Linked DNA regions of Homo sapiens: region 1 is linked to region 2. The links come from fine-mapping of genetic effects on gene expression. A gene starts in region 2. The other region holds a variant in brackets. All regions are shown on one strand. Distances are from middle to middle. Region 1 has its middle 29 kb from the start of ABCD4. Region 2 holds the start of FAM161B (FAM161 centrosomal protein B).

The links. PIP is the estimated chance that this variant, and not a neighbour inherited with it, causes the effect.
Region 1: its variant is the best candidate, but not a certain one, in a credible set for the expression of FAM161B in anterior cingulate cortex (GTEx, PIP 0.55).

The regions. Positions count from the first base shown.
Region 1 is chr14:74,271,475-74,276,850 of GRCh38, reverse strand. No RefSeq gene overlaps it. Among named protein-coding and RNA genes, the nearest start is that of ABCD4, 29 kb to the left of the region's middle. The variant C/T (reference allele first, on the strand shown) is at 2,274.
Region 2 is chr14:73,946,930-73,952,257 of GRCh38, reverse strand. FAM161B (FAM161 centrosomal protein B) reads left to right here and starts at 2,164. Exons shown (of 9, transcript NM_152445.3): 1 at 2,164-2,285. The coding sequence starts at 2,232. COQ6 (coenzyme Q6, monooxygenase) reads right to left here and starts at 1,956. Exons shown (of 12, transcript NM_182476.3): 1 at 1,763-1,956. The coding sequence starts at 1,925. RefSeq lists a silencer at 1-204 and enhancers at 2,198-2,257, 1,274-2,274.

The DNA of each region.
Region 1 (5,376 bases), 320 kb before region 2:
GAAGTCAGGCCTAGCACTCCAGGTACCAAGCCAGCATGGTAAGCTGAATGTAGCCACCAACAGCCTCTGGCAGGGAAAGTCTTGAGGCTGACAGAATTCTCCAGGCACTGGTCCAGACAGGAGCCCAGAATGAGGAGATGGCGCTGGGACAGGTGAGTGAGCAGTGGAGTCAGAGGCCTGGCCTTTCCTCCCATGCTACCCTCCTGTGGCACCCCTGCAGGGGTCTAGGCTCCCGTGTCTGCCCTTGCCCACTTCTATACCCCAAACTCCAGCCCCACTCTAGCTGTCCTGGCAGCAGCAGACCTGGTCGTCAAACATGGGGCTAGCAAGGAGCCTCAGGCATAGGGAGCTCTCAATAAATGTCTGACCAGCCGGGCGCAGTGGCTCATGCCTGTAATTCCAGCACTTTGGGAGGCTGAGGCAGGCAAATCACCTGAGGTCGGGAGTTCGGGAGGTGGAGATTGTGGTGAGCCGAGATCTCGCCATTGCACTCCAGCCTGGGCAACAAAAGCAAAACTCCGTCTCAAAAAAAAAAAAAACAAAATGGTCTGACCGGCTCCCCCAAGGCAGGCCTAGAGAGTCTGGGGGAGGCCCTCCCCATCTAGGGACACATGGATCACCCTTGCCCTTCTGCTCAGGAGGTACCCCAGGGCCTCTCCCTGACGCCAGTCCTCCCAGCCCAGGGTGTCTTCTCACACACTGCTCACTCTGTCTGCCCACATTCTTCCTGTAATTTTTTTTTTTTTTGATACAGAGTCTCACTCTATTATTCAGGCTGGAGTGCAGTGGCATGATCTTGGCTCACTGCAACATCCACCTCCCGGGTTCATGCGATTCTCTCACCTCAGCCTCCCAAGTAGCTGGGATTACAGGCAGGCGCCACCACACCCAGCTAATTTTTGTGTTTTTAGTAGAGATGGGGTTTCGCTATGTTGGCCAGGCTGGTCTTGAACTCCTCACCTCAAGTGATCCGCTCACCTCGGCCTCCCAAAGTGCTGGGATTACAGGTGTGAGCCACTGCGCCCAGCCAGTCTGTCCACATTCTTGACATCTGTCCCTACTCGCTAGCCAAACCGCAGCTTCCAGAGAAGAGTGGGCCTGGCCCCCAGCTTTGCCAGGGGTGGTCAGGTGGGTGAGCACTTTCCATTCCTAGCATAGCCACAGAGTACACTCCTCCTACCATCTGTCTCCCCCTTCCAGTGGAAAAGATGGTGCTGTCCCAGGGGACCTGGCACCATGCCACCAAGCTCAACCACAGCCCTCTCTGCACCCCACCAGGCAGATAGAACCACCAGAGGAGTCTGGTTTCCCTTTAGTTACAGACGGGGGTGGCCATCATCACACCCCTCTAATCCTGATGTACCACGGCCAGGGAGCCACATGCAGCCAGTGGCCTCACAGGGCTATGGTTAACTCTGGACACACATCCACTATGCAGTCACGGACTAATATAGGCAGAAGCCCAGAATGCTCTCTGGCTGATAGCTCTGCCTTCTGTTACTCAGCACTCAGTTGGAAGTATGCTAAGTCATCAGCATGCTTCCACTTCACCCAGTCTCCTGGGAGGATCAAAACCAAATCCTACTGTCTATTGCAGCATCTGGCTTTAGCCTAGGTTTTCTGGAATAACTATACCCCCCACCCCCACTGTAAGTTGATTGTGTTTGAAATCTAGACTGCTACTGCTATACCCCTAGCACTTAGAAGAGTAGACAGTCTAGTGTCCATGTTGATAAATCGTTGGTTAGGGTTCTAGCACATGCTGCCTTTATTAAAAACTGTCCCAAACCCATTTACAAAAGCAGTAGCTAGTGCAAGGGTGTGTGGCTTATAGTGGGGGGCAGGCTGGACTTGAAACTAGAGAAAGCCTAATTCTTGCTTATTTCAAAGGTTCATTCCAGGGGTGTGAGTGAGGTATTAGCTACATGTGCTTGGGGACATCAAAGTACCCTGGACCCCTCCAGTCAGAGAAAAGGGGTCTGGGAAGTCTTTCATGCCAGGATATTCAAAATGCATCTGTGGCCGGGCACAGTGGCTCATGCCTGTAATCCCAGCACTTTGGGAGGCTAAGACAGGAGGATTGCTTGAGGCCAAGAGTTCAAGACTAGTCTGGGCAACATATTGAGCTACAAAAAATTTAAATATTTTTCTTTTCCTACAAAAAATTTTAAAATTAGCTGGGTGTGGTGGCACACACCTGTAGTCCCAGCTACTTGGCAGGGCTGAGGTGAGAGGATCACTTGAGCCTGGGAGGTTGAGGCTGCAGTAAGCCT[C/T]ATCCCACCACTGCACTACAGCCTGAGCAGTACAAGAGACTGTCTCAAAAAAATAGTAACATTTTAAAAAATTTAAAAAGAATAATAAAGTGCACCTGTAAGCACTATACAGTGTGTTTTCCCAACTCTGTCCCCTGAGAAGGCCTAGAAGCAACTGTACCACAATAACAGTAAGCATACCTTGTGCCTAGATTTTGGTACCTAAATACCATTCTCCACTAAAAAGCCAGACAAGAGGAACCAACAGATGTTAAAAGTAGTGGATTAAAGTTTGATGAGGAATAAGATATTTATATAGTCTCAAAGCATCATCCCACAAAATACTTGTTAATAAGTACATGATACTCATTAACTTTACAATGGAAAAACCTGCAGGTACTATCTTTTTTTGTTTTGGTTTTGGTTTTGAGACAGGGTTTCACTCCCATTGCCCAGGTTAGAGTGCAATGACACAATCTTGGCTCACTGCAACCTCCCCCTCCTGGGCTCAAGCGATTCTCCTGCCTCAGCCTCCCGAGAAGCTGGGACTACAGGCACACATCACTGCACCCAGCTAATTTTTGTATTTTTTGTAGAGACAGAGTTTTGCCATGTTGCCCAGGCTGGTCTTGAATTCTCGAGCTCAAGCCATATGCCCCTCCTTGGCCTCCCAAAGTCCTGGGATCACAGGCACATGAGCCACTGCACCTGGCTAGCAGGTACCATCTTAATCGAATGATAAACATTAACATCACCAGGAATGGAACAACATGGTGTGCTTCCTGATATGATGCACTGAGAATGGAGAACCAGTTCCATGGAATTTTCTCCAAAAATGCAGATTCAGGTATGCAACCTGAGTCTTATGAGGAAATATCAAAACCCAAATTGAGGACATTCTATAAAGTAACTGGCCAGAAATCATCAAGAACGTCAAGGTCACAGAAGGCAGTTATGGATTGGAGGAGACTACAGAGACTGGGTCACTCAATTCAGCGTGCAGTCCTGGATCAGATCACAGTTGATAAAGGACGTTTTTGGAATGATCAGGGTTCTGTGGACTAGTTGATAGTATTTAACACCCTTCTGGACAAATCAATGTCAATTTCTTGATTTTGTTAGTCGTATTTGGTTGTGTGGGAGAGTATCCTCATTTTAAGGAAATATACACAGAAGTATTAAGTGGTAATGGGGTATCATGTCCCCAACTTACTATCAAATGGTTTAGAAAAAAATGCAAAAATAGGCCAGGCAAGCGGGGGTTATGCCTGTAATCCCAGCACTTTGGGAGGCCAAGGTAGGAGGATCACTTGAGCCCAGGAGTTTGAGACCAGCCTGGGCAACATAGTGAGACCCTGTCTCTATAAAAAAATTAAAAAATATTATCTGGGCATGGTGGTGCACGTCTGTAGTCCCAGGTGCTTGGGAGGCTGAGGTGAGAGGATCACTTGAACCCAGGAGGCTGAGGCCACAGTGAGCCATGATCACACCACTGCACTCCAGGTGACAGAGGAAGACCCTATCTCAAAAAAAAAAAAAAGTAATAGTAGAGATACAGAGTGAATAATAAAATGTAGTGAACTGGATTTGTTTTTGTTTTTGTCTTGAGGCGGAGTTTCACTCTTGTTGCCCAGGCTGGAGTGCAATGGCGTGATCTTGGCTCACCACAACCTCCACCTCCTGGGTTCAAGCAATTCTCCTGCCTCAGCCTCCCGAGTAGCTGGGATTACAGGCATGCGCCACCACACCTGGCTAATTTTGCATTTTTAGTAGAGACAGGGTTTCTCCATGTTGGTCAGGCTGGTCTGGAACTCCCAACTTCAGGGGATCTGCCCGCCTTGGCCGCCCAAAGTGCTGGGATTATAGGCGTGAGCCACCACCCCCGGCTAAGAGTTTTGTGTTGTTGTTGTTGGTGTTGAGATAAGAGTCTTGCTCCGTCTCCCAGGCTGGAGTGCAGTGGCACCATCTTGGCTCCCTGCAGCCTCCACCTCCTAGGTTCCAGGGATTCTCCTACTTCAGCCTCCCGAGTAGCTGGAATTACAGGCATGCGCCACTACGCTCAACTAATTTTTTTATTTTTAATAGAGACGGGGTTTCACCACGTTGACCAGGCTGGTCTTGAACTCCTGACCTCAACTGATCCTCCTGCCTCAGCCTCACAAAGTGCTGGGATTACAGGTGTAAGCCACTGCACCCGGCAAGTATTTTTTAAAGTACTACTAAAAGAGTCCTTCCCTTTATTTCTACCTGACTCCCTGACTATCCTACCAACTGTATGGTCTATGTGCCTTTGGGAGAACTTTCATTCTTCCAGCTATCATTGCACCTAGCCTGGAACAAAAGACTGGAAGAAAATACATTTAATATTTTCGGCTGGGCGCTTGAACCTGGGAGGCAGAGGCTGCAGTGAGCCGAGATCGCGCCACTGCACTCCATCCTGGGCAACAGAGCGAGACTCTGTCTCAAACAAAAAAAAAATTTTCATTGTCTCTCTGCCTAACCACTCACTCGCTCGCTCCTCCAATGCTTACTTGACGCTTCTAAAGGCAGAGGGCAGAGATGAAGAGGAAGGTGCCAGTTACAGGAGAGACGCAGAACCATGGCCCAGGGAGGCTAAATGTTTGGTTCAGAGACCCCAGAGCGTTTACGGAAGCCTCTTGGCCAGAAGGGATTGATAAGAACCAGGCAAAACAAATCCAAAAAGATAACTGACGTCAGGACCGGGGGAAATGTCCCAACAGGGAACTGAGTGGGGCAGTGACCACCAGCCATAGGGAAGGATACCAAGAAGCCAAAGGCTTGAGTGGTAACATGTTGTTCCCATTTCACAGCCCTTTATAGTTTACAAAGGAGCTTCTAGGACAATGGTGGAGTGGGCTGGTAAACAATTCTGATTAAGAACATCTAGAGGTGAACAAAATATAACAAAAACAAGTTTCACGCATGACTGGAATAGGAAACAAGAAAGGGAATCCCAGGTATGACAGTCAGAGTCAGAAGGTTGACTAGCACTTGCATTTTATTTATTTATGAGATGGGGTCTTGCTATGTTGCCCAGGCTGGAGTACAGTGGTGCAATCATGACTTACTGCAGCTTCAACCTCCTAGGTTCAAGTGATTTTGT
Region 2 (5,328 bases):
CCAGCTCCTCAGAAGGCTGAGGCAGGAGAATCACTGGAACCTGGGAGGCAGAGGTTGCAGTGAGCTGGGATCCTGCCACTGCACTCCAGCCTGGGTGACAGAGCAGAGACTCTGTCTCAAAAAAAAAAAAAAAAAAAAAAAAAGTTAGCTCCAGCCATACAGACAGTGAGCGGTCCATCTTGGCAGCTTTTGCTGTGGAGGATGGGGCACAGGGACATGCTCTGTAGAGCATGCTCTGTAAAGGGCACTATCTTCTTTTTTTTTTTTTTTTTTTTTTGAGATATCGAGTTTCGCTCTTGTTGCCCAGGCTGGAGTGCAGTGGCGCGATCTCAGCTCACTGCAACCTCCCCCTTCCAGTTTCAAGCGATTCTCCTGCCTCAGCCTCCCAAGCAGCCATGAGAACCACCCTGTTACAGAAGTCTATGATCTGCTTTAAGTTAAATTTTGTGTATCTTGTGAGATGAGGATCATAGGGTGGAACAGCTGCCCTTAGATCAGGGTGTCCAATCTTTTGGCTTCCCCAGGCCACAGTGGAAGAATTGTCTTGGGTCACATATAAAAAAACACTAATATTAATGATAGCTGATGAGCTAAAAAAAAAAAAAAAATCACAAAAAAAAAATCTCATAATGGGCCAAGCATGGTGATTCATGCCTGTAATCCCAGCACTTTGGGAGGAAGGGGCAGGTGGATCACGAGATCAGGAGTTCGAGACCAGCCTGGCCAATATGGTGAAACCCCGTCTCTACTAAAAATACAAAAATTAGCCAGGCATGGTGGCACAAGCCTGTAATCCCAGAGGTTGCAGTGAGCTGAGATCGTGCCATTGTACTCCATCCTGGGCAACAAGAGCGAAACTCCATCTCAGGGAAAAAAAAAAAAGTGAAAAGACTACAAAATGGAAGAAAATATTTGCAAGTCATTTATCAGATAAGGGACTTATACAGAATAAACAAAATAATGGCCAGGCAGGGTTGCTTATGCCGGTAATCCCAGCACTTTGGGAGGCTGAGGCAGGTGGATTGCTTGAGCCCAGAAGTTCCAGACCAGCCTGGGCAACATAGTGAGACCTCGTCTCTACAAAAAAATACAAAAATCAGCCGAGTGGTGGCGCATTCCTGCAGTCCCAGCTATTTGGGAGGCAGAGGCAGGAGGATCAATTCAGCCAGGGAGGTTGAGGCTACAGTGAGCCGTGATCGTGCCACTGCACTGCAGCCTGGGCACAGCGGAAGACCCTGTCTCAAAAAATAAAAATAACTCTTACCACAGTATTCAAGAGACAAACTGCTCAATTAAAAACCGGGCAAAGGGTCTGAATAGGCATTTCTCTAAAGAAGATATACAAATGACCAATAAACATATGAAAGGATATTCAACATCATTAATCATTAGGGAAATACAAGTCAAAACCTGGAGATCCCACTTTACTTACACCCACTAGAATGTCTATAAACAAAAAGACAATGACAAGTACTGTCCAGGATCTGGAGAAACTGGAACTCTCATTTATAAATAACCCCGGGAAGGCCTGTTTTCCCATGAGTAGAACAGACTCTGAACGCCCCTCCCACTTTTGACCCTAATGGACCCTGAAGGACCACACGCATTCCGGCGTGCCCTGGGGTTCCTCTAGGAGGGGAGGGGAGAAGCGTCGCGAGACCTGAGAAATTGTCTTTGGGCAAGTCGTGCTAGGGCTCTCACGGCTCTCATCGTGCCTCCGCGGCCCGGTTTCCGGCCACTAGTAGCCTGGAGAAGGGCTTACCCAAGGCACAGGCCATGGCAGCGCCCACCAGGCCTCCACCCGACACCACCACGTCATACACGGTGTCTGTTGAGGCGCCGGACCACCTGCGCCAGGACACCAGCGGGCCGCTGTGGGGAGCTGCACGCACAGCCCCGCATCGGCTGACAAGCCGGGCCGCCATGGTGCAGACCTGCGCCGTCGCACTCAGAACTCCCGCAGGCCCACCTACGTAGTGCGTCCGGAGCAGAGCACTCCAATCCCGTCCCGCTTCCGCGGCGTCCTCAGAACCGGAAATAAAATGCGCGGAGAAAATAGGCCAATCGGAAAACGAACCTTGCCTCCTCGGGCGGGATGGATCGGAGGCTGCCCTGGAAGCCAACCAGACGCCAAAGCTAGAAAGGGGTGGACCCTGGCCCCGCATAGCTCTCGCTGCCACCGCTGCTGCCACTATCGCTGTCACTGTCGCTGCTGCCTCTGTCCAGCTGAAATGACCGTGGGGAGGCCTGAGGGAGCCCCCGGAGGCGCGGAGGGGAGCCGTCAGGTGAGGAGAGAAAAGAGACTGCCCCCGGGAAAGGAATCCCGGAGAGGAAACTGTTGGGCGTTGCCTTGGAGACAGACAGCAGGGGCGTGTCACGGAGGGGCGTGGGATTAAAATGAGCGTTTAGGGACCAGGAGGCGGACTCTGACTTACAGACCTGAACCTCTCGGACTTTATACGAGGCTCTTGATAGGCAATGTCACTCAGTTTTCGCTTATCCTCTTAGTACTCTATGACCAGTAGTACAATTGTCGTCTCATTTTTGTAGAAGAGAAAACTGAGGCACAAAGAGATTAAGAAAATTGCTCCCCAAATTTGGCCGGGCGTGGTGGTTCACGCCTGTAATCCTAGCACTTTGGGAGGCCGAGGCGGGTGGATCACCTGAGGTCAGGAGTTCGAGACCAGCCTGGCCAACATGGTGAAACTCCGTCTAAAAATTTAAAAAAAAAAAAAAAATTGGCCAGGCGCGCTGGCTCACGCCTGTAATCCCAGCACTTTGGGAGGCCAAGGAAAGCGGATCATGAGGTCAAGAGATCGAGACCAGGCTGGTTTCCATGGCAAAACCCCGTCTCTACTAAAAATACAAAAATTGGCCGGGTGCGGTGGCTTACTCCTGTAATGCAGCACTTTGGGACCTGAGGTCAGGAGTTCAAGACCAGCCTGACCAACATGGAGAAACCCTGTCTCTACTAAAAAAAATACAAAATTAGCTGGACGTGGTGGCACATGCCTGTAATCCCAGCTACTCGGGAGGCTGAGGCAAGAGAATTGCTTGAACCTGGGAGGTGGAGGTTGCAGTGAGCCGAGATTGTGCCATTGCACTCCAGCCTGGGCAACAAGAGCAAAACTCTCTCAAAAACAAAAACAAACAAACAAAAAAATACAAAAAATTATCTGGGCATGGTGGTGCGCGCCTGTAGTCCTAGCTACTCGGGAGGCTGAGGCAGGAGAATCACTTGAACCCGGGAGGTGGAGGTTGCAGTGAGCCAAGATTGCACCACTGCACTCTAGCCTGGCGACAGAGCGAGACTCCGTCTCAAAAAAAAAAAAAAATTAGCCAGGTGTGGTGGCGCGTGCCTCCAGTGATCCACCAGCCAAGGCCTCCCAAAGTGCTGGGATTACAGGCGTGAGCCAGTGCACCTGGTGGACCCCAAACTATTAAAGGCAAAAAGTAGATTGGCAGTTGCTTAGGGCTGGTGGGGTGGGGTGTGGAGGGTTAGGGGAAATAGGGAGTGACCACTAAAGCGTGTGGCATTTCTTTTAAGGGCGATGAAGGTGTTCTAAAATTGTGATGGTAGTTGCACAACTCTGTGTATATACTAAAACCACTGAATTGTACACTTTAAATGAGTGAATATATTGTATAGAAATTATGTCTTAATAAAGTTGTCTTTAAAAGAAAAGAAAAAACGTGCCCAAGATCACACACTGTAGCAGAGCCAGGGCTAGGGTGCATACATATCTCTGACTCTTACCCTGGATTTTAGTAAGCCTGGCTCCTCATCAATCAAGTGTCAATTCAAAATTCCTCCACAATGAAAAATAAAAATCAGCCCAGGACTGAGAAAGTATAACTCAGACTGTCATAGGCATAGATAATGCCAACGGCAAGAGCATCAGGAAACAGTGTTTCTCTCAGGGCCATAACATAGGTGCAAAATTACTAACACCCCTTCTTCCAAAAGGCTTACTGATCAATTACTTACCCACCCTACTTTATTCTTCTCACCTTTTGAATAAGTATTGCCGTTGGGCGGGGCCCAATGGCTCACGCCTGTAATCCCAGCACTTTGGGAGGCCAAGGCAGGCGGATCATTTGAGCTCAGGAGTTGGAGACCAGCCTGGGAAGCATGGTGAAACCCCATCTGTACAAAAAATACAAAAACTAGCCAGGTGTGATGGTGTGTGCTGTAGTCCCAGCTACTCGGGAGGCTGAGGTGGGAGGATCATCACCTGAGCTCAGGAGGTTCAGGCTGCAGTGAGGCATGATTGCACCACTGCACTCCAGAACCTGGGTGACAGAGCAAGAACCTGTCTCAAAAAAAAAAAATTGCTCAGTCATTCGCTTAACTAAATTGTCCCCACTTCATGACAGCACCATTCCAGAGTTGATACCTGGTTCCCTGAATCAATCAGGGAAGCCAACCCTATAAAAATCACACCCTCAACCCTAAGTTCCCTGTGGTTTTCCGTAGTGTCCTGCAGCAAGTTAATAAGCCTAACTGATGTACTGATTACAAGTACATTCCTAATAACCTTAATCTGATGGACTTTATCAACCAAAAAGCTTTCCATAGGCACTCCATCTTTTTATAACCTCACAGTTGTTTATGGTTTTCACAGAATTTATCATCATCTTATATTGTCTGTCTCCTCTTACTACAGTGTAAGCTTCATGAGAGTAAGGACCTTGTTTGTCTTGTTCTCAGCCAAATGCCCAGTGCACATCAGGCACCCAGTAAATATTTTATGAATGAATGGAGTACTGAAAAAGTTAATTGTGTGTCCCACTTCTTAAGACATTGCTCTTCCAGCCAGACCATACTGTCTGTCTTGTTAATCATCCATTCCTTTTTTTTTTTTTTTTTTTGAGACGGAGCATCACTCTTGTTGCCCAGGCTGGAGTGCAGTGGCGCAATCTCATCTCACTGCCACCTCCGCCTCCCGGGTTCAAGCGATTCTCCTGCCTCAGCCTCCCCAGTAGCTGAGATTACAGGCACCCGCCACCACGCCCAACTAATTTTTGTATTTTTGTAGAGACGGGATTTCACCATGTTGGTCAAGCTGGTCTTGAACTCCTGACCTCAGGTGATCCACCTCCCTCGGCCTCCCAAAATGCTGGGATTACAGGCATGAGCCACTGCACCCAGCCATCATCCATTCCTTGACAGAGTGCAAATTAGCTAGAACATGAGGAAAGCAGAGGAGTAGAAATAAGGGAAGGGAGAGAAGGAAGATGAGCAAGAAGTAGGTTAAAACCCAAGTAAGGGAGAGTGTGGCCATCATCATGGGCAGGATTCCTGGAGTGCAGGGGTCAGAAAGCCTG